7 linked regions of the Homo sapiens genome follow. The protein of the gene in region 3 interacts with the protein of the main gene of each other region in a pairwise test. Each region holds a gene or a part of one and is shown on either strand. Other genes may lie near its edges.

Region 1 (3,500 bases), on a different chromosome or scaffold from region 3:
GTTAATATTTAAAGTCTAAAAAATGAAACAAAATGAAAGTGATAAAAAAGATATATTTACTTATCCACTCTTTCATATTTAGAACTTCAGTGCTCTAGGGAAGAAGTACTAGGCAACTGCTATAATATTACCTCTCCGCTGGTCATCCTCACAATAGTAAAGAAATACTAGAGATCTTCATACATAAGTCAGGGTAAGAAACAAGGGAGACAAAAAAGAGGAATAAAAAAACAGATAATAGGGATAGAAAGGTGAAGACAGATATAGCAGGCAGTCAATTATTTCTTTATATTTTGCCCTGGCAAGGATAATACATATTCTATTTAAAAGCCCCATAATAAGTTTAAGCATATAAAATGGAGGCTAGAGCATCAGCATGGTATGTTAGAAACAGTACAGGCTTTTGGGTCAAAATACCTAAGTTTAAATATAGACTCCAACACTTCCTAACTTTCTGAACTTACTGTTTTATTTAAGTCAATCTTTCCCACTCAATCTTCCCCAGTAGATTAAGCTCTATAATGACAGGAACCCTGTCTCCTTGTTCACTCTTGTAAGCCTAGCACCTAGCATGATGCTTGGTAAATAGTAATGACTTCAGTAAGTAACTGTAGAACAAATGACAAACAATTTCAAGGAAGTTTTTCCGCCTCTGAGTCTATTTTTTAATATGTAAATGAATACAATAAAATTTATATTTCATAAAAACTCTGCCAAGTTTTTATGTATTTAAAGTATCCAGGAGAAAATCTTCTGTCACTAAATGTTCAATTTAGCATTCTCTAGGTGGTCTGCAATATCAATAAATAGCCATTAATGTTTTTAAAACATCAACACCTCTTCTTTTGTACCTCATATTCATATGAATTATAACATTGCATGTACTAACGCCTGCTTCAAAGGCTTTTCCTCTTTAGTGCCTATGATAGGTTGTTGGGAGGATTAAATGAGATAATGCAGGAAAATTACTTGGCAATGTGATTAACACGTGGTTAGAACTCAATAAATGTAAGTTTTTCTTTTTATCTTGTTTAAATGGTACTTGGTGTCTAGTGACCAACAATACTTAAGACTAAAATGCAGTTTGATGTAAACCAAACTGATTGTTATGGCTGCAGAGAGATCAGCTACAGGACTAACCTGGAAGAGTTTACCTAAAATGATACTTCCCAGTTCTAATGGTTACTACGGCTTCTCTTCTATTCAATCCAAAGCTGCCTTATAATTTCAAATGAGAGGCCAGAACTTAGAAGGGAAAACACAGCATTGCCACCAATTCCCCTCCCTTCTCTTTTTGAAACAGAGAACATTAGTATTTGGTTCTAATCCTTCAGAGTCTAGATATTAGAATTATTACAAGCAAGGAAGAAGACATTTTCTCCCTTTGCTCTACTAGCTTTAAAATATTTTTTAAGATTAAAATGCTTCAAAGGTGTATATTAAAGACCTAATTTAACTACACAGTTGATATTAATCAGATTTTGCTGGTATGTCATGCATCATAAAATTTGATATAGTATTTTCTCATCAGCTCATCATTTTAAATCTTAAGAATATTTAGGTATACTTTTCATGCCTTAAAATGGTCATTCTGTCTGAAAAAATATCAAGTGAAATTTCAATAGGTATTTGGAGTTGTTCTCTTTAGAACAGATTGCTGCAAATATTTACTTTCACATAAACCAGAGTCAAATTGGTCAGCTCTGAACACCAGAATCTATAATCAACTACCTAGAAAAAGGGAATCCTCTGGGTATGTCTGTTAATTTAGGAAGCAATTTCAGTTAGCAAACAGGGTAGGATTCAGAGGAAAATAATTTAAATAAATTACTTACTTTTGCAAATAATTCTTGTTGCTGTCTCAATAACTCTTCTTCAGGAATGCCAAGGTTTTCCAAACGAGAACTGGCCTTTCTTCTTTTTAATGCTACTGTTTTACACTCTTGCAAGACTTCTTTTACTTCACTGATGTAAGAGCCAAATCCCAAACTTTCTAGTGCTAGAGAAATGAAAATATTAAAATATGAAAGGGTGATAAAACACAGCTTTCCCCCAACCCGTAGACCTAAAGTTTTTGTGGGCTTTTCTTTGGGGGAGGGGAATGTTTTGCTGTTTTCTAATAATTTTACCTATTTTATAGTTGTACAACAACTGTCTGGGCAGCCAAGACAAATATTTTATCAATCTGCTAAATATTAGGTGGCAAATCAGTTAAAACTTGAAGAACCAAGGCACATGCCTTCACTTTTCATTCTGACTAATTTTTAAAAGACCAAAGCATTTCCTGTAAGCAGGGAAGAAAAAAAAGCCCATTATAAGAACATATGGTTTTAGTAAGAAAAAACATTTTGTGTCATTTGACTTAGAAAAAGTAGGCTGGTAACACATTCTCTACTAAGTTCTGGTAGGACAGAATAAAAGAACAGAAGTTTTTCTTTTGTCCAATATACCAACAGGAAGCTATTTTTAGCAGATACTCAAACTGCCAAGTTTAAAAAATACTGGTGGAAATAAAAGTCATGAAATTCAGCACTTATAGTCAGCCAACAGGTTTCTCTTGAAAATAAAACTTAACAGGAAAAATAAAAACATATTTAAATGATGTGGCAAAAAAAACGTAGCTGAAAGACTATAAAGATACAAGAAGCACTAATAAAAATGTTTCTCCCCTTTTCGTATTTAGAAAGGAAATTTTATAAGGAAAAAAAAATGGGCTAGGCATGGTAGTTCATGCCTGTAATTCCAGTACTTTGGGAGGCCAAGGTGGGAGGATCCCTTTAGTCCAGGAGTTCAAGACCACCGCGGGCAACATGGCAAGACCTCGTCTCTACAAAAAGTAAAAAAATTAGTCGAGTGTGATGGGTCGTGCCTATGGTTCTAGCTACTCAGGAGGCTGAGGTGAGAGGATTGCTTAAGTCCAGGAGATTGAGGATGTCACGAGCCATGACTGCGTTACTGTACTCCAGCCTGGATGACAGAGCAAGACCCTGTTTCAAAAAAAAAAAAAAAAAAAAATTCACACACCCTAAATACCTTCTGTAATCCAGAAAAGACAAGGCATAAAATTTCCTTTTGGGTCATAGTATTTAAAATTATATTTTATAGTTTTGGTATATTGACTAATGCCCCAAAGGCATATTTTGTATTGTGAACCAATGATGAAACATAGGTGGCAAAAAACAGTAAATCAATTTAAGTCATCAGTTCTTGAAGTCTTTCAATCATTATGTTGAACCAGACTCCTTTTAGTATACATGCTCTCACTTCTAACTTCAGGGATTTGCTCTTCTGGGAGAATGCCAAAAACACCTTTACAAATCTACATGCCCATGCAAACTGTGGTTTTTAGACATTTTGAATGATTTACAACTTTAAGTATTTCAAATGTTAAGCTGTTTTCATCAACCTTCTTTAGAAATAATCTGATGCCAAAAAGCATAGTACTGTCCTATTATTAAGTTAACTCACTTCCCCTGACCTCCCTAAAAACTTCAGAAAGG
Region 2 (3,500 bases), on a different chromosome or scaffold from region 3:
CTTTCCCTGGCAGGTGCTTCACAGAGGCAGAATAGAAAAGTGGGCACAAGTCTGGGCCAGGTTGCCTGGATTTAAGTCCTGATTCCATTGCTTCCAACTGTGTGATGCTGGGCAAATGACTTAGCCTCTCTGTGCTTCAATTTCTTCAACCACGAAACTGAGATAATTTGGGCTGAGGCTAATGTGGCCTCTTCTCAAGACAACCAATAGCTCCTTCTGCTACTGATAGTCACAGGACTCTCCCAAATGGAAGCATCTTCTGCTTTTCATCCCCAGATCACACAGCCCAGGCAATACTGGCGCCCTGAGAGTGAGCGACTACTAGCGTCACACACTCACCTCTAGCAAACAATTTCTCTCTGGGGCACATGAGGAAGACAGAATCAGAAGCACCAGAAGAGAAGTTTCTCAGGCCACAGGAAAACAGAGGTATGCACAGATTTAGACCCAGACAAAGGGCCAAATCTTTCAAATGTAGGCCATCTTAATCACAAGGATGCACAACTCCGGCCTTGACTATGTTCCTAAGTTCCACAGAAAACCACTGTATCTTATACTCACTGTATAAGACACACCAATGTCATCGAAGATTCCTTCTCACCTTTTCACTGATGACAGTCACAGTGGCATCAGCCACGTTCATGTTCACTGACAGCCAGTCCTCCTTGTTGGATGAGGTCATAAGATTTTCTATGGCACTGTTCAAAATATCCATTCCTGGGGACAGAAAAGGATAATTTAAAGTGTCCTAAAGCCACTTACCACACTCAAATGTGGGCCCAAATCACCAATAACAGCTACGCCCAGACTGATCTTTTTTTAATAGACAGGACACTTCATTCTCATGTTTGCTCAACAGGAATGAAATACCAGCTTCTGGCCGGGCGTAGTGGCTCACGCCTGTAATCTCAGCACTTTGGGAGGCTGAGCCAGGATCATTTGAGGTCAGGAGTTCGAGACCAGCCTGGCCAACACGGTGAAACCCTGTCTCTACTAAAAATACAAAAATTAGCTGGACATGCTTGCTTGAACCCAGGAGGCGGAGGCTGCAGTGAGCTGAGATCGCACCACTGCACTCCAGCCTGGGCAAGTATCAGTGAGACTCTGTCTCAAAAAACAAAAAAAGAAAAAGAAAAAAAAGAAATAACAGCCTTTTCAGTAGGAGAGGAGAGTCAGGAGAAGCTCCGGGGACCTGGTGCCTTAGACGCTGTCTACCTATGCAGACCATGGCCCTTCAGCCTCTCTCCACCCTCACTGTCTCTTGATGGCACCTTTACAGTGGATCCCCCCATTGAGTAGGGCCCTTTTGCCAGCTGTTTCCACAGTTTTTCTGGGGGATAGGGGTGGGAGTGACAGCTTTATTGAGGTATCATTCACATGCAATTCACTCACGTAAAGTGTGCAATCCAGTGGATTTTAGTACATTCACAGAGCGCACCCATCACCATCATCAATTTTTTTTTGAGACAGGGTGTTGCTCTGTCACCCAGGCTGGAGTGCAGTGGTACAATCACGGCTCACTGTAGCCTCAGCCTCCCAGGCTCAGATGATCCTCCCACCTCGGCCTCTGGAGTAGCTGGGACTACAGGTACATGCCACCATGCCCAGCTAATTTTTTGAATTTTTTTTGTAGAGATGAGGTTTTGCCATGTTGCCTGGGCTGGTCTTGAACTTCTGGGCTCAAGCAATCCACCTGCCTTGGCTTCCCAAAGTGCTGAGATTACAGGTGTGAGCCACCATGCTAGACCTACCATAATCAATTTTAGAACAGTTTCATCACCCCAAAGAGAAACCCCGTGCCTGGTAGGGGTCATTCTGCATTTTTCCCCCACTCCCCAGACCCCTAGACCAAGGCAACCCTTACCTACTTTCTGACGCTAGAGCTCTGCCTATTTTGGGCGTTTCATATGAACGTAATCACACAGTATGCAGTCTTTTGGGACTGACTTCCCTCATAGCATGTTTTCAGGCTTCATCCACGCTACAGCGCACTTCAGTCCTTCATTCCTTTTTATTGCCAAATAAAATTCCACTGTATGGAAGTATCACATCTTATTTATCTAATTGTCAGTTGATTTGTCAGGACATTCAGGTTGTTTCGCTTTTTGACTCTCATCAATAATTCTGCTGTGAACATTTGCATACACGTTTTTGCATGCACAAACGTTTTCACTTCTCTTGGGTCTACGCCTAGGAACTGAGTTGCTGGGTCTAAAGTAACTATGTTTCACCTTCTGAAGAATGCCAGACTGTTTTCCAAAGCAGCTGCACCATCTTACAGCCCCCTTGGCAGTATATGTAGCTTGCGATTTCTCCACAGCCTTTTTTAGCCCTGGTGAAGGCTTCATCTCCCAGTCTCTTTTTGGCTTGGTATAGCCCAGCAACTACACTCTGCCCCTGGCATGTGAGCTGAATGCTGTGTGTGCCACTACTGTGTCACTCCTTGACAGCATGAAGCCTCCACAGTCCTTTCTCCTGGCCCGCCAGCTGACAAGACACGAAGCAGGTGCCCTGGCCTCAGAGATGGAGGCCTCGTTTCAGAGCAGCGGAGCTCTTCCACGGCCCTGAGTCACACAGCTCTGGACTACTGGGTAAACAAGAAATCCACGTCTGTATTGCTAAAGTCCTGCATGCTGGGGATGACAGGTCAAAGCAGCGGGGCCTGTCCCTCTACTCATCTTTTGATCAGGACCGTTTATGTTCTCTGGCAGGTGACAGTGTGACAGTTTGATTCAAGACAAGGCGTGAGAGTAAACAGCAGACCTCACCCTCCTCGGAGGGCGAACGCCTCCTGTGAGCTCCCGCACACTTGCAAAGTGGAAAGACAATAAACATTTCACATACCGACTGGTTTGTCTACAGGTAACATGCCCAAGTACTGCACGTGGAACTTCTGGACCAGCTCAGTCTTTGGTGTTGGAAAATCTACTACAGGGAACAAAAGCAACACATCTTTCTCAGTGGTTCCAACACACATGTACACAACAGCCGTGGCTCTGCATCATCTGAATGCTCAGGACACGCCCTGTGCCATAACGCCCTATGTTTCTGGATGTAAATGTAACAACTATTCTACAAGAGCAGCATTACTCCAGATATTGGGGCTCTGTTAAAATCCTGTTCAACTTTCAAGATAGGAATGCATGTGAAAGCAGGAAGTGGCATCTATGTGTTAAAGCTGCTACTGTCTCTTTGATGTATATTAAGTAAAGTAGCAGCTTTTGGTGTCCTATTTAATTAGGTGTGGTTGATGCCCAGAGAAAATGTAACCTCAAAGGGCACAATCAGAGACATAGGAAGATAACTGAGTTCCCCCAGTAATCAACCCACGTTTTTTTTTTTTTAGAGACAAGAGTCTCGCTCTGTTGCCCAGGCTGGAGTGCAGTGGTGCGATCTTGGCTCGCTGCAACCTCCATCTCCTGGGTTCTAGCAATTCTACAGGTGCATGCTGCCATACCTGGCTAATTTTTTGTATTTTAGTAGAGACAGGGTTTCACCAT
Region 3 (3,500 bases):
GTGTAACCTATTCTATGCACACACACACACAAAATGCATACACCAAAGGAAAAACCCCAGGAGGAAACACAGAAAATGACCACCAGGTCATTTGTTCATTGATTCCCTCTTCCGTTCATTCCGCAAGCATTCACTGAGAGCATGCAGCATGCGGGCCCTGTGCGAGGCGCGGTAGTGACAGTGGTGATGAGGCAGTCCTGAGTTCAGCTGTACAGAACACAGGGACCTGCACATGTGCCAGTGTTGCAAACAGGCAATGGTGGCATCTAAACTGAGCTCTGAGGACCCAGAAGGGACTGCCCAGGGTTCACAAGAAGCTTGCATGGGGCCTGTGGTGTGGAAAACCTGAGGGCTCTCTGGGGAACTGAGCCTAACATAGTTCTGCAGTGGGAGAGTGCCCGGGGAGGGGCAGGATCCAGAAGCCAAAATAAAATGGACCTGACTGTTTTTAGAAATAAATGATTCATTTTTTAAGTGTGGCTATAAAGACTACGCAATAGTATGGGAAAAAAAAGCTTATAATACAATGTTAGTGTCAGATATAAACATGTTGTAAAACAAAACAGGAAAAAAGCCTATCTACCAAATAAACAAAAACATGAAAGAAAACATACCAAAGCAATAGATATGTGAAAAATAATTTTTACTATGTACATACACCATATAACATATAGTATACATAGTATGTATACATAATATACCATATAATACACTATATATGTAATGTGCTATATACTATGATGATGCTAGTATCATGGAATTTGGGGGAGTTTTTTCTCAACTTTCCAATATTTTCAAACTACTCTAGTCTTATTTTAGCATTTTGTTTTGTTCTGCAGTCAACTGTTTTAAAGGCGGCAGTGCCCTTTTCTGCTTGGTCGGGGTCAGAATTCTGTAAGGGATTCTCACGGCCCAGTGGAGCTGAAGCCTCTGTGACTTCAGAGATGCTACTTTCCTAACTGCTCCAGGAAATCATTCTGAGGTGAATTCCTCCCACTGTCTACTCTCCTTTGGAAAAGAGGAGTCCTAGCCCCCACGCTGGAGTGCTCTGGCTGGAGTTTCCTGGGAGCGGAGGGGCCTTCCCAGTGGGTGGACTATTTCTCATGGGGGCTTCACAGTCTGTTTCACACTGCCTAGAGAGACCCCTCCTCTGCCAAGCCTGGAACTGAGCATTCCCTGGGCCACAGGAACAAAAGGAGAGCTTTGGAAGAAGGGTGAAATGCCTGGGCACTCAGATCAGATCAGATCAGCTTTTAGGCAAAGTGCATTTCATTTTCTGTTCATTCATTCACTCAGTAAACATGCAAAAAGCACCTACTATGTGCCAGGCTCCAGTCTACATAAGACTGGTGACTCTCAACACTGACTGAATTCTAAGTAGTTGGAAATGACTGGAGAGTAGGGTGAGTGTGCAGTGTGGCCTGGAGAATGCATGTGGAGTTCAGAGTAGGAAGGTCCCCTGTGGAGGCCCAGAGAAAACTTCAGGGCTAGATGCAGTCCTGAAACAGCAGCCCTGGCCCTGCCCATGCTTGAATGCAGGAAGAGAACCTGAAATGTGGGGACAAAGAGCAACTGGCCAAGAACAGAGCCGGTGATGCTCAGGGGAGGGACACCCTCCTGTCAGCCCTCCCCACCCACCCCTTCTATGCACCAGCCTGTATCCAGTAACATGTCGCAAGGTCTTTGCTGGAAGCTCAAGCCTCCTCTGCTTTCTAAGCATGGAGAAGACAGAGACCAGTGTGAAGTATAGGTCAAGAAAAAAAATAAAGAGAAGGAGAAAACAGAGAAAATGCATAAAGATTCCCAGCTTTAAACCTTCTTCCACCTCCATCGTTGCCCCAAATTCCTCCAGGGCTCTCTGTCATGAAAATTTCAGAAAGTGCATGAGAAAACTTTGCAAATGAAGTCAGGGGTCACAGGCAGGGGAAAGTACTGGTCTCAGACTAGGCCAGATAAAGAAAAATATCAAAGACATCAGGAGAGCACCGACCTCGCCCATGGGATGCCTGCCGCAGTGAGATGCCACGCACCTGGCCTAAGTGAGAGGTGGACACACTCCCCTGGCAGCCACCATCTGGGGGTTCAACCTCATGTGTGTCCAGAGCTCTTGATGGGTGATGGAGGGATGGGCAGAGGCTGCTTCATCCCCACTGGAATCAGGCACCTCCTGCCGGGTGTTGACACAGATGTGAGGAAGGAAGGAAGCCACACCTATGGCAGACTGAGCTCTGTGGCTTACTCTGCCTTGGCGTGTCATGGGGCCACTGACCCCCATCACACTAGATTTTTCCAACCCCAGCAAACACACAGAACTCAGCCACCCTCACAGAGTCTCAAAAATAAAGGCTCTAGTGCTTGGCAAGTAAGAAATTAGGTCCATGCATGTGGCAAAAGTTAGACACAGTGAGCTTTGCTGGTTTTTCCCTCTGTTTTCCTTCCTCGGCAACATTCTTAAAAGAAAAATCAAAATAGTAATTACAACAAAAATGTCCTTGTTATCCTTCAGAGAGCACGGCACTGTATTTTCTTCACTCTAATGACTATTGCATCTATTTCCAAGCTTCAGACTATTAATAATACACAGGAATACCAAGAAGCAAATTAAAACAGAAAGGCACAAAAAGTAGAATGGGAAAGACGTGGGTTTGAATCTCACCTCCACGCATTTATTATGGAGCTTCAGTTGTGTAATGCAACTTCTCTGAATACTGGGCAATCGTGAAATGAGTGGGAACATAATGCATTTAAATAGGATAATAATATCTAGAAGGAGGCTCCCACCTCACCCGGCCCATGTCAGTGCCTCAGGAACGTTCATTTATTTCTTTGTGATCAAGGGACAGGAACAAAATGTACGGCATGGAGAAGTAAACAAAAGAATCAATGACTGTACACAGCCATGCTGCTGGGACATGGGACACCTTCTCCAAGCCCAAGATGGAGAGAGGCAAAGTCTTCCATAGACGGAACATCACTCTCCTAACTAAAATAGTTGCATTCTCAAAGATACAAAATGTGCCACTTTCTTAACTGAATAAACGCAGGCAGCATGGCGAGGAAGGACGGCCCAGCAGGCCTTGCCCAGTGTACCCTGAGAGAACACCAAACATTCTGCTCTTAGGTGCTCCATCCACCTACACTGTTTTATTCCCATGCCTTCACCAGATGTTGAAATGTGCTGCCAAATCAAACCTAGACGTAAGACAAACCAAAATAACAAGGAAAGCTTGCTGGTTAAGACTGAGAAACAGCGTGGGGTGGGCAAAAGCTAAGATGCTCGGGTATGAGTCTCAACTTCAGTGTTTCTAGATGGCCTTGGGCAGGTCCTTGTCCTTCAAAGATCTTGCTCAGCTGCAAAATGAGGAGGCTGCACCAGGTGTCCTCTATGGTCCTAAATACTATAAGGCGCCGAGTGACATCTTTATGTGGCATTATGATGCATCTTTTGTGATCAATCTGGTTTTTTAGACATTATTTTGACAAGCTAAAGGGCAAAAAAT
Region 4 (3,500 bases), on a different chromosome or scaffold from region 3:
GCCTCAGGAGTAGCTGGGTACTATAGGCATGCATCACTGCCCTGTTTATTTTTTATTTTATTTTGTAAAGGTATTTGAAGAACATTTCTTCCTTTTACTTAAAGAAGCTGTTGAAAACATTTAGTACATATCTATCTATCTATCTATCTATCTATCTATCTATCTATCTATCATCTATCTATCTATCTATCTATCTATTGAAACAGGGTCTCACTCTGTTGCCCAGGCTGGAGTACAGTGGAACAATCACAGTTCACTGCAGCCTCAATCTCCCAGGCTCAAGCAATCCTCCTCCCTCAGCCTCTGGAGTTATTGGGACTACAGGCACATGCCACCACACCTACCTAATTTTTTTTTTTTTTTTTGAGACGGAGTTTCGCTTTTGTTGCCCAGGCTGGAGTGCAATGGCTCGCGATCTCGGCTCACCGTAACCTCCACCTCCCGGGTTCAAGTGATTCTCCTACTTCAGCCTCCCGAGTAGCTGGGATTACAGGCATGTGCCACCACACCCAACTAATTTTGTATTTTTAGTAGAGACGGAGTTTCTCCATGTTGGTCAGGCTGGTCTCGAACTCTTGACCTCAGGTGATCCGCCTGCCTCAGCCTCCCAAAGTGCTGGGATTACAAGCATGAACCACCGCGCCCATCCACTAAATTTATCTTTAATAGAGATGAGATCCTGCTTCACTGCCCAGGCTGATACCGAACTATTGGGCGCAAGCAATCCTCTCACCTAGGCCTCCCAAAGTGCTGGGATTACAGGTGTGAGCCACTGTCCCCAGCCCTAGTAAGTCTTTATTTTTTATTTTTTTGAGGTGAGTTTCACTCTTGTTGCCCAGGCTGGAGTGCAATGGCACGATCTCAGCTTACAACAACCTCTGCCTCCTGAGTTCAAGTGATTCTCCTGCCTCAGCCTCCCGAGTAGCTGGGATTACAGGCATGCACCACCACACTCAGCTGATTTTTTTGTATTTTTAGTAGAGATGGGGTTCTCCATGTTGGTCAGGCTAGTCTCAAACTCCCGACCTCAGGTGATCCGCCTGCCTCGGCCTCCCGAAGTGCTGGGATTACAGGCGTGAGCCATAAGGCCTGGCCTATTTTTTACTTTTAAGATGGAGTTTTGCTCTTGTTGCCCAAGCTGGAGTGCAATGGCATGATCTCGGCTCACTGCAACCTCCGCCTCCCAGGTTCAAGTGATTCTCTTGCCTCAGTCTCCCAAGTAGCTGGGATTACAGGCATGCACCACCATGCCCGGCTAAATTTGTATTTTTAGTAGAGATGGGGTTTCTCCATGTTGGTTAGGCTGGTCTCAAACTCCCAACCTCAGTGATGCACCAGCCTCGGCCTCCCAAAGTGCTGGGATTACAGGCATGAGCCACCGCGCCCGGCCGTACGTATCTTTATATCAGGATGTTTATAACAATTTTCTCTTAGAACATCTTTAGAATTTAATACTAGGAAAAAAGGTTTCTCTCGACAAACTATTAGGCTTTCTTTTACCAGAGTGAAAATTGTACAATTTATCTTTCCCTTTTTGCATTAAATTCCATGTTTCCAAATTAAATTACAATAACCACATTAGCCGAGGCAACCTATACATTTAGTTTTTCTTGTTACATAAATTTTTACTTATTTATATTTTAATAGCTTCACTGTATATATTTGTGGTAAGCTGCTCAAATCCTTTCTAGAAGTAGTAACTGGTATAAATTATAAATAAATAAAAACTTCCTGTAATAGCCTATTCTGCTATTTAACACTGTAAATATGTTGTGTAGTCAAAGTTCTAGTTCCTAAAAACAAATAAAACCAAACGACACAGCAAGCTTTTAAAAGTTACATAAAGATCGGCTGGGCATCGTGGCTCACGCGTATAATCCCAACACTTTGGGAGGCCAAGGCGGGTGGATCACTTGAGGTCAGGAGTTCAAGACCAGCCTGGCCAACATGATGAAACGCTGTCTCTACTAAAAATACAAAAATTAGCTGGGTGTGATGGCACATGACTGTAATCCCAGCTACTCGGGAGGCTGAGGCAGGAGAATCACTTGAACCCGGGAGATGAAGGTTGCAGTGAGCCAAGGTCACACCACTGCACTCTAGCCTGGATGACAGAGCGAGACTCTGTCTCAAAAAAAAAAAAAGTTGCACAAAGATTTATGTTGAATGAATTTAATAGCCATGTGAGTAGCCAGAAAAACAGCAGTTTCAGAAGACTGAAACCAGCCCACAAACAGAAGTAGCCAAAAGTTCAAGGAAGAAAAAAACAAAATGAGTAACATACTTAGTACTGCAAAAGTGTGAAGTGTGCCTCCTGGTTTCAGCAATAAAGGCTGGAAACCACAGCAAGGGCAGTATCCATGAAGTGGGGGGCAGGAGGGGACACTGAAGCCAGCCTGTAGTGGGTTGGCACGGAAGTGGGAAATGCCAGTATCCATGACACTGTCAGAGCCTGGCTATGATGAGCAGGAGAGAGCAAATAGGAATGAAGGATTTTATTGGAAGGAACAGAAACGAAGGAGGGATTTTCCTCCCCCCAGCCCTTTATTTGTAATAGGAAAGACTTGCACATTTCTATACTTTATTCAATAGCTATTTACTGGGTGCCTACAATGCAACAGGCAGTTCCTGGGAAAAATAATCCGTGAACAAAAAAGATAAACAAACCTCCTTGTCATGGAGGAATTTACATTCTAGTAGGGAGAGGGAGGACATTAAAATTAATAAATCAGGTATAGAGAATCGAGAATGTAATCAGCATCACGGGGGAGTACAGCAAAGTCAGGGGGTTCAAGATTGTGGTGGTGGGAAGGATTGCTGTGCAGGTGCATAAATGAGGTCAGGGTGGGCCTGCTGATGTGCTGAGATTTAAGCAAAGACTTGAAAGAGGTAAAGGAGTTAGCCAAGCAGATTTCAGGGGAAAAGTATTCCAGGCAGAAGAAAGAGTAAGAGCAGCTGGGTGCGGTGGCTCACGCCTGTAACCTCAGCACTCTGGGAGGCTGAGGCAGGTGGATCACCTGAGGCCAGAAGTTCAAGACCAGCCTGGCCAACATGGTGAAACACCGTCTCTACTAAAAATACAAAATTAGCTGGGCTTGGTGGTGGGTGCCTATAATCCCAGCTGCTCAGGTGGCCGAGGCAGGAGAATTGCTTGAACCCAGGAGATTGTGCCTCTGCACCCCAGCCTGGGAGACACAGCAAGGCTGTCTCAAAAAAAAAAAAAAAAGAAAAAGAAAGAGTAAGAGCAAGTGCCCTATGGTAGGACTATGCCTGGTGTGTTCAAGAACAGTAGAAAAGGCTGGGCACAATGGGTCACGCCCGTAATCCCAACATTTTGGAAGGCAGAGGCGGGCGGATCACCTGAGGTCAGGAGTTTGAGACCAGCCTGGCCAACACGGTGAAACCCCATCTCTACTAAAAATACAAAAATTAGCTGGGCGTGGTGGCACACGTTTGTAATCCCAGCTACTTGGGAGGCTGAGGCAGGAGAATCACTTGAA
Region 5 (3,500 bases), on a different chromosome or scaffold from region 3:
GAAGTTCCACCCACTCCAAGACTTCTGGGTCAGGGCTCTGTGGCTTTTGTTAGGCCTCCCTAAGGACCTCTCTTTCCTTCCCCTTCCCCCCTTGTTTCCTGTTAATGCCATTACCATCCAGCCACAGGCTCTTCCTTGTATACTTGAAGCTGAGCCTGTGAAGTTCAGAGTTGTTCATCCTGGTCTCTAGAGTAAGAGAGTCTTGTTTTTGTGGATATTTCTTTTTTTGAGACAGAGTCTAGCTCTGTCACCCAGGCTGGAGTGCAATGGCGCGATCTTGGCTCACTGTACCCTCTGCCTCATGGGCTCAAGCAATTCTGTCTCAGCATTCCAAGTAACTAACTGGGATTACAGGTGCATGCCGCCACGCCCAGCTAATTTTTTTTTTTTTGTATTTTAGTAGAGATGGGGTTTCACCATGTTGCCCAGGCTGGTGTTGAACTCCCGAGCTCAGGCAATCCACTCGCCTCGGCCTCCCAAAGTGCTAGGATGACAGGCATGAGCCACAACGCCCTGCCTGCTCTTATTTTTTTTCAAGCTCATTAGGAAGAATGGTGGCGAGGGGGCGGGGGATGCTTTGGAGCCCTCAGGCCCATGTGTGTACATTCAGAACACTAAATGGCAACTGTGTTCTTAGGAGACTCGTTTTCAGGACTCCAGTCCCTTTCCAGACCACACCATGAAAACATGGGAACTGAGTGGGTCCCATGGGTGCACATTTAAAATACACTCTCTTGGGATATCTTTTTGACACGTAGGGTCCAGAATTCATGGTATTGGATGCTTAATAATGAAGACATTCTTGAATGGTGGAAAGGTTCCAAATAGACTTGTCTTGCGCTAGTGTCTTTCATAGTGTCTGTGATTTGTTTTACTGAATATAATCTATTTTAGGTAAACTGCAGGAATAGGGTCAGAGGTAACTGAAATTACTATATATTAAAGTGTGTAACTGTGCTAGGAATTTGCTGGTTCAAATTTTAAACTGAAAAGTTTTTGTCTAAAAAGAAAAGGAATAGTTGAAAATCTGTGTAACTACATTTTTTAACTAAACTAAATCCCACTGACTTTCGGGACACTTTGTGTTGTCATTTTTCATGTAACCTGTGTAAGTAGTAAGAATGAGAGTGGTTGCTGACCTTTTTTCCTGATAGACCAGGGTTTACTGGTGTGTTTATTTTGTCACCATTCCGGTTTGACTCAAAGGAAATGAAAACATCTTCCATTTGTTCTCTGTTTCCAAAGGGCATCCGCTTCGATCCTGAAATTCCGCAAACACTACGACTAGAGTTTGCTAAGGCAAACACGAAGATGGCCAAGAACAAACTCGTAGGGACTCCAAACCCCAGTACTCCTCTGCCCAACACTGTACCTCAGTTCATTGCCAGAGAGCCATGTAAGTCGATCTACTTTTCATTCAAAAGTAATAATAACTAAGAACTGTTCATGTGCTGCATGTGAGGTTACACCATGGGACATGGAGCTGGCTGAGTCTTATTTTCCATTTCTGTGAAGAGGTTGCCTAGGCGTTCTTGGTGTCAGAATTCCAAATACAGCAATCTTGTTTGTGATTGGCTTCCCAAAAGATGGTTCAGCTTGAATAGAACCATAACTTCAGAATATCATTTGATGTACTACAGATTTCCTTAATGTTATATTGACCATCATGAGTATGCCCCTAGTTGCCTTGGGTATAAACCCTTCATTCCCCCCTGCTCGGACACGAGAGCTGGTTCTCAGCATTTACTTTAATCCATTTGTTGAAGGACATCAGCTCGGTGGCTTTGGAAAAATAGGATATTAAAAGAGAAAGAAGCAGATCTTGGGAATTTGGTTCTATTCAGTTTAGCCATAACTCTAGGGGGAAAAGTAAACACATACAAAGAATGTATATATTGGAACTGTCAGTCTAGCAAACTAATACCAGTAAAACTTTAAGGAAATTTGGGGCTTTCTTTTCCAACTTAATTGGATAAGGACACTGGCTAATTGCTCAAGACGTCTTCTACCCCACATTAATAAGCTTATTTCATTATATGTCCAGACTACCATTTCTGCCTTTCCCTGAATAACTTTAAAAGATTGAATTTGCTTTCTCAAGCTCAGTCAGTGGCAGAAGTGGGGCATGAGACAGGCCTTAACTTCTCCTTTCATTGCAGAGCCATATGTGATTTAATATGGCAGGGCATTCAAGGAAACCCAAGTGACTTGGATTCCAAGTTATTTGGAATATTTCTGTCCTGTTGTTTTTGGTCTGCTTTCTAAACCACACGGTTGTGATCTTCTTCCTTCGATAGTACATTTTAACTCTTCTTATTGAAATTGAAGGACACATGGATTCCTTGCTCCCCCCATGTCATGTGCATGTCAGATTTAATCAGGTTATCTTTGGAAGTCACAGCCATTCTGTAGTTCAGTCACTCTTGGTACTCATCAGTAGAAACTAACAGATAAGTCTCCCTGAATGTTCTAAAATAAATGTTTCTATGAATCCAGAAAGTCATAATAGATTAAAAAAAATTATTTTGTTCTTTCACCTTCTTTGTCCCAGGGAAACTAGAAACCTTTGCTTATTTGGGAAGGAAATCTAAACAAAAGTTACATCTTACAGTGTACTTGTAGTACAGGAGGATATAGGAACATCTTTTACATAATTCTTCATCCTTATAGTATCTAGCTTAATACTTTGTATATTGTATATATTTAATATTTATTATAGTGAGTGGATAAATTGATACTGAAATTGGGCTACTTGTAGAACTGTAGATGCATTTGTATGCCTCTTCTCTCTGAAATTTCTTCTCTCTTGATCAAGGCATCAAAAAAGAGTATTTTTAGGATGCCTGATTTAGTAAAAATAACCTAAAGTAATTCTTTGCCTTTTTAGTGAATTTGCCAGCCTCAGATCTCAGAGTTCTTTGAAAAGATTAATTCAGGCAGGAAATGTAATGCTGGTGATACTTAACTTTACCTTTTCAATTCTTTGCTGAATGCTCTTTTTAACAGGACCACGAAACTTTTTCTGAATTTCCTACAACAGCCCTGTGAAATAGGTAGCCAGGAAGGTTGTAGCCAGATTACGACATGCTATACAAAAGCAACAAATAGGAACAAACTGGACATTCACAAGTCCCTGAAGTTACAGGAGAGCATAGAAACTGAGCTTAGAACTCTTTTCTGGCAAGCTCTGCTCACCTCCCTTCCCAGCATACAGAACAGTGCAAAAATGGCCAGATAGTTTCCATGACAGGGTAAAAACTTGCCCAGCTGTTCACAGCAACACAAATTTGAAGTTTAAAAAAAAAAAAAAAAAAAAAATCCAAGCAGCCAGCAGTGTATTCTTGAGGAAAATAAAAGTCAGCATGATTTATCTTAATATAGCTCATTTTTACGACACAGCATCTTGAGGAGAGCAAGTCCACTATGGCTCAGGTCAACCTTATTATCCATTGCCATTCCCTCTGGGAACTGGGAACTTGACCGTCACATACAACTTGCTT
Region 6 (3,500 bases), on a different chromosome or scaffold from region 3:
GCTAATTTTTCTATTTTTAGTAGAGACCAGGTTTCACCATGTTACTCAGGCTGGTCTTGAACTCTGGGGCTTAAGCAGTCCACCCACCTTGACCTCCCAAAGTGCTGAGAGCCACTGAGCCTAGCCCAAATCCACGTTCTGATTCAAAGGGAAAGAAGAAGGGTGCAGCTAAACCTGGGGGGTGAGAAGTACTTAAAAAGCCCAAGAGAAACAAAAGAGAGAATAATTCCTCACTAGGACCCCCTATTGCCTTCCCACTATTGGTGCCCTTGCTTGGCACTTCCCCTGGCCTCCAGGAGTCTGAGACTTACTCTTCCATGGATGTGCCCATTGCCCCCACTTCCAGGTCCACCCCCCAGTGATTCGGTAGCTTAGTGTCTGCGCTGAAGCCCAGGACAGCTGGATGGACAACTGGTAGATCCCTTCACCTACCAACTGTGCTTTCTGCTCCCCTCCCCCTTGCTTCCCTCCTCCCCAGCCCCTCGCCACCCCTAGCAGCTGCAGCAGCCAAGACCAAGTCTTCAGAGACCCAGACACAAGGGCAGGGTTCATTCCATTCTCACCTCCTTGGGGTCCCAGTGTACTGATAGGCCGAACTCTAATATTATAGGAGATCTCTGGAAGATTGCAGGGTCTCTTATCCCTCAATAAGGGGCAAGGCAAGCCGGGCGCAGTGGCTCACGCCTGTAATCCCAGCACTTTGAGAAGCCGAGGGGAACAGATCACTTCAGGTCAGGAGTTAAGAGACCAGCCTGGCCAACATGGTGAAACCCTGTCTCTACTAAAAATACAAAAATTAACCAGAAATCGCTTGAACCCAGGAGGCAGATGTTGCAGTGAGCCGAGATCACGCCACTGCACTCCAGCCAGGGCGACAGAGCAAGATTCCGTCTCAAAAAAATAATACTAATAATAAATAAATAAATAAGGGGCAAGGTAGTCCACCAACAAAATGACAGGCAGTGTGATATAGTGGACACCCTAGCCCTCGGTGCCCTTAGTTCTGTGTGTGGCCCTTTCACTAAATTGCTGTGTGACCTTGAGCAAATCGCCTCCCCTTTCTGGCTTTCCTTAGCTGTAAAAGAAAGGGATTGGAGCGGAAAGTCTCCAGAGACCTTTTAGGTTCCAAAGTAGTACAGTGACCCACAAAGTGAGAAAACAGTCTTCTAAAATACCAAGTTATTAATAGTAAAATCAAATATAAATAATGTGAATATAGTTAATAGCTAATGTTGTTCTCAATAGAAATGTTTCCCACAAGCTGTGGAATTAAACATACTACCACATTTCTCTATTTCCCCGTGAAAGTTTGTTAGAAATGGTTAAATTGTGACATTACCCTCTTGGCAAATGTTTTGTTTTCATTGCTACTAGGAAAGGGCAACTCGTTTTCGATGCCTCTCCCTTCTGGACGGTGGAAAGGGCTGTGTCATAGAGTAGGAACGGGAGATGCGGCACAGGAATGGCTCCCATTGACCCGGGTTGGGGGCTAGGGCGAAGGCCTAGGAGAGGCAGAACTGTTACCTTAGAGCTGGCCAGGATTAGAGAACAGTGCCTGGAACCGGGGGGAGGGGCACGGTGACCTTGGGCTGCCCACCTTCTACCCTTCCAGCACCCATACTGGCTCCCCCAACCTGCGGCTGGGCTGGGAGGAGGTCTTGGCCCCTACCAATCCCTTAAGGAAGGGGAAAGAGTTTGGGAAGGGGAGTCCTCCCTTCACCCCTGCCTCCCCCAAGTTGTGAGAGAGGAAGCCGGAATCCTGCCTGCTGAAGCCAGGAATAATTCTGGCTGAGATCCCAGGCCCGGCAGGGGCGCTGAGTCATGGTAGAGGGCAGAGTGGAGAGTGGACAGGAGACCCTAAGCTTGTCCAGTCAGAAAAGCAGAGGCTGAGGGGTGGCCTTTTCTTGAGAACTACATTCAAGTTGCAGCAAGAAGGACAGTGGTCTGAATTTGACGGGGACAAATGGAAGGGAGATAGGACACATGAGTTCCTTTAGGTCTGGCTCAGGGGAGCTAGACTTCATTTCAAGGGGTCTAGGTTCTGGGCAGTTGAGAAGGAGGCTATTTGGGGTCACCAAGGCTCCCCTTTCTTCCCAAAGCTCTAACACTGCCACCTTCTGCTGGCTAGGAGAGAGCTGTGTCTTCTGAGGCTAGAGCTGGAATGCAGTGAGACCAGACTGCCTAGGTCCTCCCTCACTTCTTCTCCTGACCTTGGGGTGTGGCTCCCACTCTCTCCCAGTGTCCTCAGGGTTAATAACTATGTGCCACCAGATAGAGAGTTAAGGGGCTGCTGAATTGGCTTCTTGTGAAGGGAATCCCCTAAATGTCCCTCGTTTTGGTCACTGGCCTCCCTCCCGCCCCCTTCAGGACATTCTACTATCTTCTTAGGCCATCCCTCCCTCCTCCAGGCACTACTTCTTTTGCTCTATCCCCAAGCCCCACCCCTGCATTTTTGTGACAACACCGGAATGATTTCTAGAGAGAGAGGCCAGGAAGAAGGAAAGTGGCACTTGGCAGGAGACCTTGCAGGGGGCGGCTGGTGAGGAAGCCAGCCGCCCATTGTCCAGGACCCCAGTGCCCTGGCCTCCGGCCTCAGGCTTCTCCTGCCTCTGTACAATGCCACGTTGATACGCCCAGCAGCTGTGACTCAGGCCTGGCCCCCTGCCAGGCCCAGCACTTCTACTGGAGTTGCGTCTGAACATGTCAACAGGCTTCCTATCCCTCTCTCAGCACCAGTTCTCCCCACTTCAGCCCCTCCCTCTGCCTGGAATTAAAACCTGGCTTTGTCTTAGGGAAGGACAGCTGGGAGCCTAGTGGCTCTGGTAGGGGATCTGAGAGGCCTCAGACCCTAGGCATATTTGGCTGTTTGGCAGGTGTCACGCCCAAGGGAAGCGTGTGGAAGCAGAGCCATGCCTGCTGTGGGTGCACATGCCCGCGTGAGGGAGTCGGGGTGTTTCATCCTGGGGCACCTGTGGGCTTTTGAGGTGTATGATATTCAGAACTTCACAGGTTGGGGTTTGGGGAAGGCTCAAGGGGCTTCTAAGTCCCTGGAACAGCTGCCCCCCTCAGTTCCTCTCTCTCTCTCTCTTTTTTTTTGAGATGGAGTCTCGCTCTGTTGCCCAGGCTAGAATGCAGTGGCGCGATCTTGGCTCACTGCAAACTCCGCCTCCTGGGTTCAAGTGATTCTCCTGCCTCAGCCTCCCAAGTAGCTGGGACTATAGGTGCCCGCCACCATGCCTGGCTAATTTTTGTATTTTTAGTAGAAATGGGGTTTCACCATGCTGGCCAGGATGGTCTCAAACTCCTGACCTCGTGATCCACCCACCTTGGCCTCCCAAAGTGCTGGGATTACAGGCGTGAGCCACTGCGCCCAGCCTCAGTTCCTCTCTTTAAGGTCTCCTTTCCAGAGAGGGATAGCACCTCAAATGCCAGGGAGGGGAATTCTCCACATCCTGCCCTTACCCGAGTTGTGGCAGACCCACAGACTAGCCAAGAAACCA
Region 7 (3,500 bases), on a different chromosome or scaffold from region 3:
ACATTTGTTGATTTTTTTTAGCTTAAAATTTAGTAACTCTGGGTTTGAAGGCCACGGTTATTTTTGTTCTATGCATGTTTGTGTTTTTATTTTGCCAAATAGGAAAGTTAGATTGTCTTTTCTGTCTTTGGACATAAGTGCATGGGAACACCATGGTATCACTTTAATTGGTGGATGCTATTAAAGGGACTAAATTCTGTCTAAAAATACCATGCTGGTGTTTATGATAAATTTAATGAAAAGAGCTTGTCATGAAACAGGCACAGTATCTAAATTTTAGGAAAACGTAGGTGCATACATATGAACGAAAAACACAGAGCATATATGAAAATATAGTGGTCATTGGGTATTGGGAATGCAGGTAATTTTTTTCTAACGTATCTTTTAGTGAGCAAATATTTTGTAAAAAGGAAGAAAAATTGATCTCTTTAGTGTGATCTCTTTGAGACATGGGCTTGTTGGTGAATAGTACTCACTGCACAGTGGTTTGGTAAGGTTTCAGTGCACAATGACAATTTATGATACTTTTAAGTATCTTTTTAAAATCTGCATAATTCAAACTGCTTCCTAAGTTTAGTGATGTTTATTATGAGGAAGAGGAAACAGATAAATCCTTGTAATGCCATCCATCTAACGCTTTTCTCCTTGTTTCGGGCCACCTGCTCAATGTGTGATGTATTAAAATTGCCTTCTAACTTACTGTCCTGCTTCTGCCTTCCTTGCGTGTTCTCCTTGCATACAGGGATGGCACATGGGAACTCTGCCTCTAATCTCAATCCCTTTGTAATGTGGACACATGGTAGTCCAACTGATAATCCGCTTTTACCTTGGTGATTCAGTTGTTTAAAGAAAAGTTTTTCTGTTGTGCATGGTGGCCCACCCCTGTAATCCCAGCACTTGGGGAGGCCGAGGTGAGTGGATCACTTGAGCCTAGGGGTTCACGACTAGCCTGGGCAACATGGCAAAACCCCATCTCTACAAGAAATACAAAAATTAGCCAGGCAGGCAGTGGTGGTGCATATCTGTAGCTGCTCAGGAGGCTAAGGTGGAAGTATTGCTTGAGCCCCAGAGGCAAAAGCTGCAGTGAGCCAAAATTGCACCACTGTACTCAAACCTGGGCAACAGAGTGAGACCCTGTCTGAAAAAAAGGAAAAGAAAAAAGAAAAATTTTGTCAGAGGCTTCAGAAATGAATCATTCTCTTGAGCATTTGCTTACTTTAGACAGGGTCTCCCTCACCTAGGCTGGAGTGCAGTGGTGTAATCATGGCTCCCTGCAGCCTCAACCTCCTGGGCTCAGGTGATCCTCCCACCTCAGCCTCCCTACAGGCACATGCCACCACGCCCAGCTAATTTGTTTTTGTATTTTTTTGTAGAGACAGGGTTTCACCATGTTGCCCAGGCTGGTCTTGAACTCCTGGGCTCATGTGATTTTCCTGCTTAAGCCTCCCAAAGTGCTAAGATTACAGGTGTGAACCACCATGCCCAGCCTTTTTTTAAATCTATCACTAAGATTATATGATCACTATACTCTGGTTGTTTATGAGCATTTAAATTAATTTTTATATAAAAAATTAAAAAGTTAGCATAGTCTAGGTGGAATTCCTTCCGTTTTCTCTGTTCTTTGCTGTCCTCCTGATCAAATACTTAGCGGAGCACTTGGAAGCTTTTAAAGTCTTCTATGGAGATTAATTTTTGTTTGTTTGTTTGTTTTGTTTTGTTTTTTTTTTGAGATGGAGTTTCACTCTTGTTACCCTCTTGTTGCGATCTCAGTTCACCACAGCCTCCACCTCCCAGGTTCAAGCAGTTCTCCTGCCTTAGCCTCCTGAGTAGCTGGGATTACAGGCATGTGCCACCACGCCCAGCTATTTTGTATTTTTAGTAGAGACAGGGTTTCTCCATGTTGGTCAGGCTGATCTCAAATTCCCAACCAGGTGACAGCCCGCCTGGACCTCGCAAAGTGCTGGGATTACAGGCATGTGCCACCATGACCAACTAATTTTGTATTTTTAGTAGAGACGGGGTTTCTCCATCTTGGTCAGGCTGGTCTCAAACTCCTGACCTCAGGTGATCCGCCTGCCTCGGCCTCCCAAAGTGCTGGGATTACAGGCCTGAGCCACCACACCCGGCTGGAGATTAATGTTTTAAACTGATGCGTCTCCCTTATCATCCCCACAAAAAAGGAGAAACTCAGAATATTTGCTATCTTTCTAATTTTCATAGCAGTAAATAGTGAATATTGAGCACTTAGTACTACTTTTTAAGCACTTTACATGCACTGTACATGGGTATTATAATAGCTTAGTCTTTATAATCTTTAAAATATGAGGTTAAAGAGAATTTTAGAGCTGAGGTAATAAAGACATAGAAATGAAGTAATATTCCAAGGCTAAGCAGCAAAGGGCAGAGTTCACACCCCTGACTATTATATTAATTGACTGCTAGTACCGTAACTTCTAATTGCTACAGTAACTGGTTTCTGCCGTTTGTTTCTTTCTGTTTGCTGTGTATACACAAAGATGAAATGGTCTGGTTCCTTCCTACTTTCAGCTTCATCACACTTCACTGAAAAAGGTCATGTTTTACAATTGGAGTGTAGAACAAACTCTGATGTGCGTTTCAGTTCTAGCTATGTGATCTTAGGCTAGTTAATCTTATTTGTAAAGTGGCAATAAAATTGGTACCTACCTTTATAAGGCTGTGAAGATTAAGTGAGAACATTTACAAAAGGGCACAGTGAGTAGTATGTGTTAAGTATTCAGTGTTAACTTTTGTCTACTCTGAAGGTATTGCCAGACATTGAGCTTTCTCACCAAAACAGTAATAATAAGGTTTACTTGTGTCTGCTTTTATTGGACATGATATATTTAGATGCTGCCTCTTTGCTTAAAGAGAAAAGTTTGCCTACCAGGCTTTCTTCTCACGGATTCTAGGCTTGAGGTTTATTCTGTATAAATTATTTGGCCAGGTATGTTTTTCATCAGATTGTTACTTTGAAACAGAAGCTTAGGCTTATTTTCTGCGAAGCATTTCCCACGCAAACTTAGTGACATTTTAATATGAAATTATTTGCATTAATACCATTCTAAAAAATGTTTTCTCTTTTTTTCCCATGCCTATTGCAAATTTTGTGCAAAATCTGGTTCTTAATCATTATTACATTGGTTTACCTTTGCATCACATATGAATAGCTGTACTTTGCTACTTTTGACTAATACTTTTTCTTCCAAGAGTTAGAATATCATAGCATAATGTTTCAAGAGGATTATTGTTAGATTGGCACAATAGTTAAAGGAATGCTTTAGGACAAATGTCTGAAATGTGATATTTAAGCTTGGTCCTAGATGTCCATGTTGAGATTTCCTGGGAATAAAATGGCTTAGTTGGGCATTGGACAGTGTAGTTAAGTAAACCCTATCTTGACAAAATGATTCAGATATGTGCTTATATTCTTAGGTGACCGGGTTATTGATGTGGGATCTGAATGGCGAACTTTCAGCAAT

Evidence for each region.
Region 1: the proteins of ZNF488 (region 3) and DR1 interact in binary tests that used the Homo sapiens proteins (3 or more experiments, as listed by UniProt).
Region 2: the proteins of ZNF488 (region 3) and APBB2 interact in binary tests that used the Homo sapiens proteins (3 or more experiments, as listed by UniProt).
Region 4: the proteins of ZNF488 (region 3) and KIF1B interact in binary tests that used the Homo sapiens proteins (3 or more experiments, as listed by UniProt).
Region 5: the proteins of ZNF488 (region 3) and RBPMS interact in binary tests that used the Homo sapiens proteins (3 or more experiments, as listed by UniProt).
Region 6: the proteins of ZNF488 (region 3) and LMNA interact in binary tests that used the Homo sapiens proteins (3 or more experiments, as listed by UniProt).
Region 7: the proteins of ZNF488 (region 3) and GTF2B interact in binary tests that used the Homo sapiens proteins (3 or more experiments, as listed by UniProt).

Annotation. Positions count from the first base shown.
Region 1 is NC_000001.11:93,352,407-93,355,906, reverse strand, and holds part of DR1 (protein Dr1), read right to left. Parts: intron 2,000-3,500; coding exon 1,836-1,999; intron 1-1,835. UniProt on the Homo sapiens protein: The association of the DR1/DRAP1 heterodimer with TBP results in a functional repression of both activated and basal transcription of class II genes.
Region 2 is NC_000004.12:40,823,043-40,826,542, forward strand, and holds part of APBB2 (amyloid beta precursor protein binding family B member 2), read right to left. Parts: intron 2,929-3,500; coding exon 2,845-2,928; intron 718-2,844; coding exon 602-717; intron 1-601. UniProt on the Homo sapiens protein: Plays a role in the maintenance of lens transparency, and may also play a role in muscle cell strength. Involved in hippocampal neurite branching and neuromuscular junction formation, as a result plays a role in spatial memory functioning.
Region 3 is NC_000010.11:47,370,794-47,374,293, forward strand, and holds part of ZNF488 (zinc finger protein 488), read right to left. Parts: intron 1-3,500. UniProt on the Homo sapiens protein: Transcriptional repressor. Plays a role in oligodendrocyte differentiation, together with OLIG2. Mediates Notch signaling-activated formation of oligodendrocyte precursors.
Region 4 is NC_000001.11:10,217,070-10,220,569, reverse strand, and holds part of KIF1B (kinesin-like protein KIF1B), read right to left. Parts: intron 1-3,500. UniProt on the Homo sapiens protein: Has a plus-end-directed microtubule motor activity and functions as a motor for transport of vesicles and organelles along microtubules.
Region 5 is NC_000008.11:30,503,041-30,506,540, forward strand, and holds part of RBPMS (RNA-binding protein with multiple splicing), read left to right. Parts: intron 1-1,139; exon of another isoform or gene 1,140-1,245; coding exon 1,246-1,396; intron 1,397-3,500.
Region 6 is NC_000001.11:156,121,211-156,124,710, forward strand, and holds part of LMNA (lamin), read left to right. Parts: intron 1-3,500.
Region 7 is NC_000001.11:88,864,068-88,867,567, reverse strand, and holds part of GTF2B (transcription initiation factor IIB), read left to right. Parts: intron 1-3,453; coding exon 3,454-3,500. UniProt on the Homo sapiens protein: General transcription factor that plays a role in transcription initiation by RNA polymerase II (Pol II). Involved in the pre-initiation complex (PIC) formation and Pol II recruitment at promoter DNA.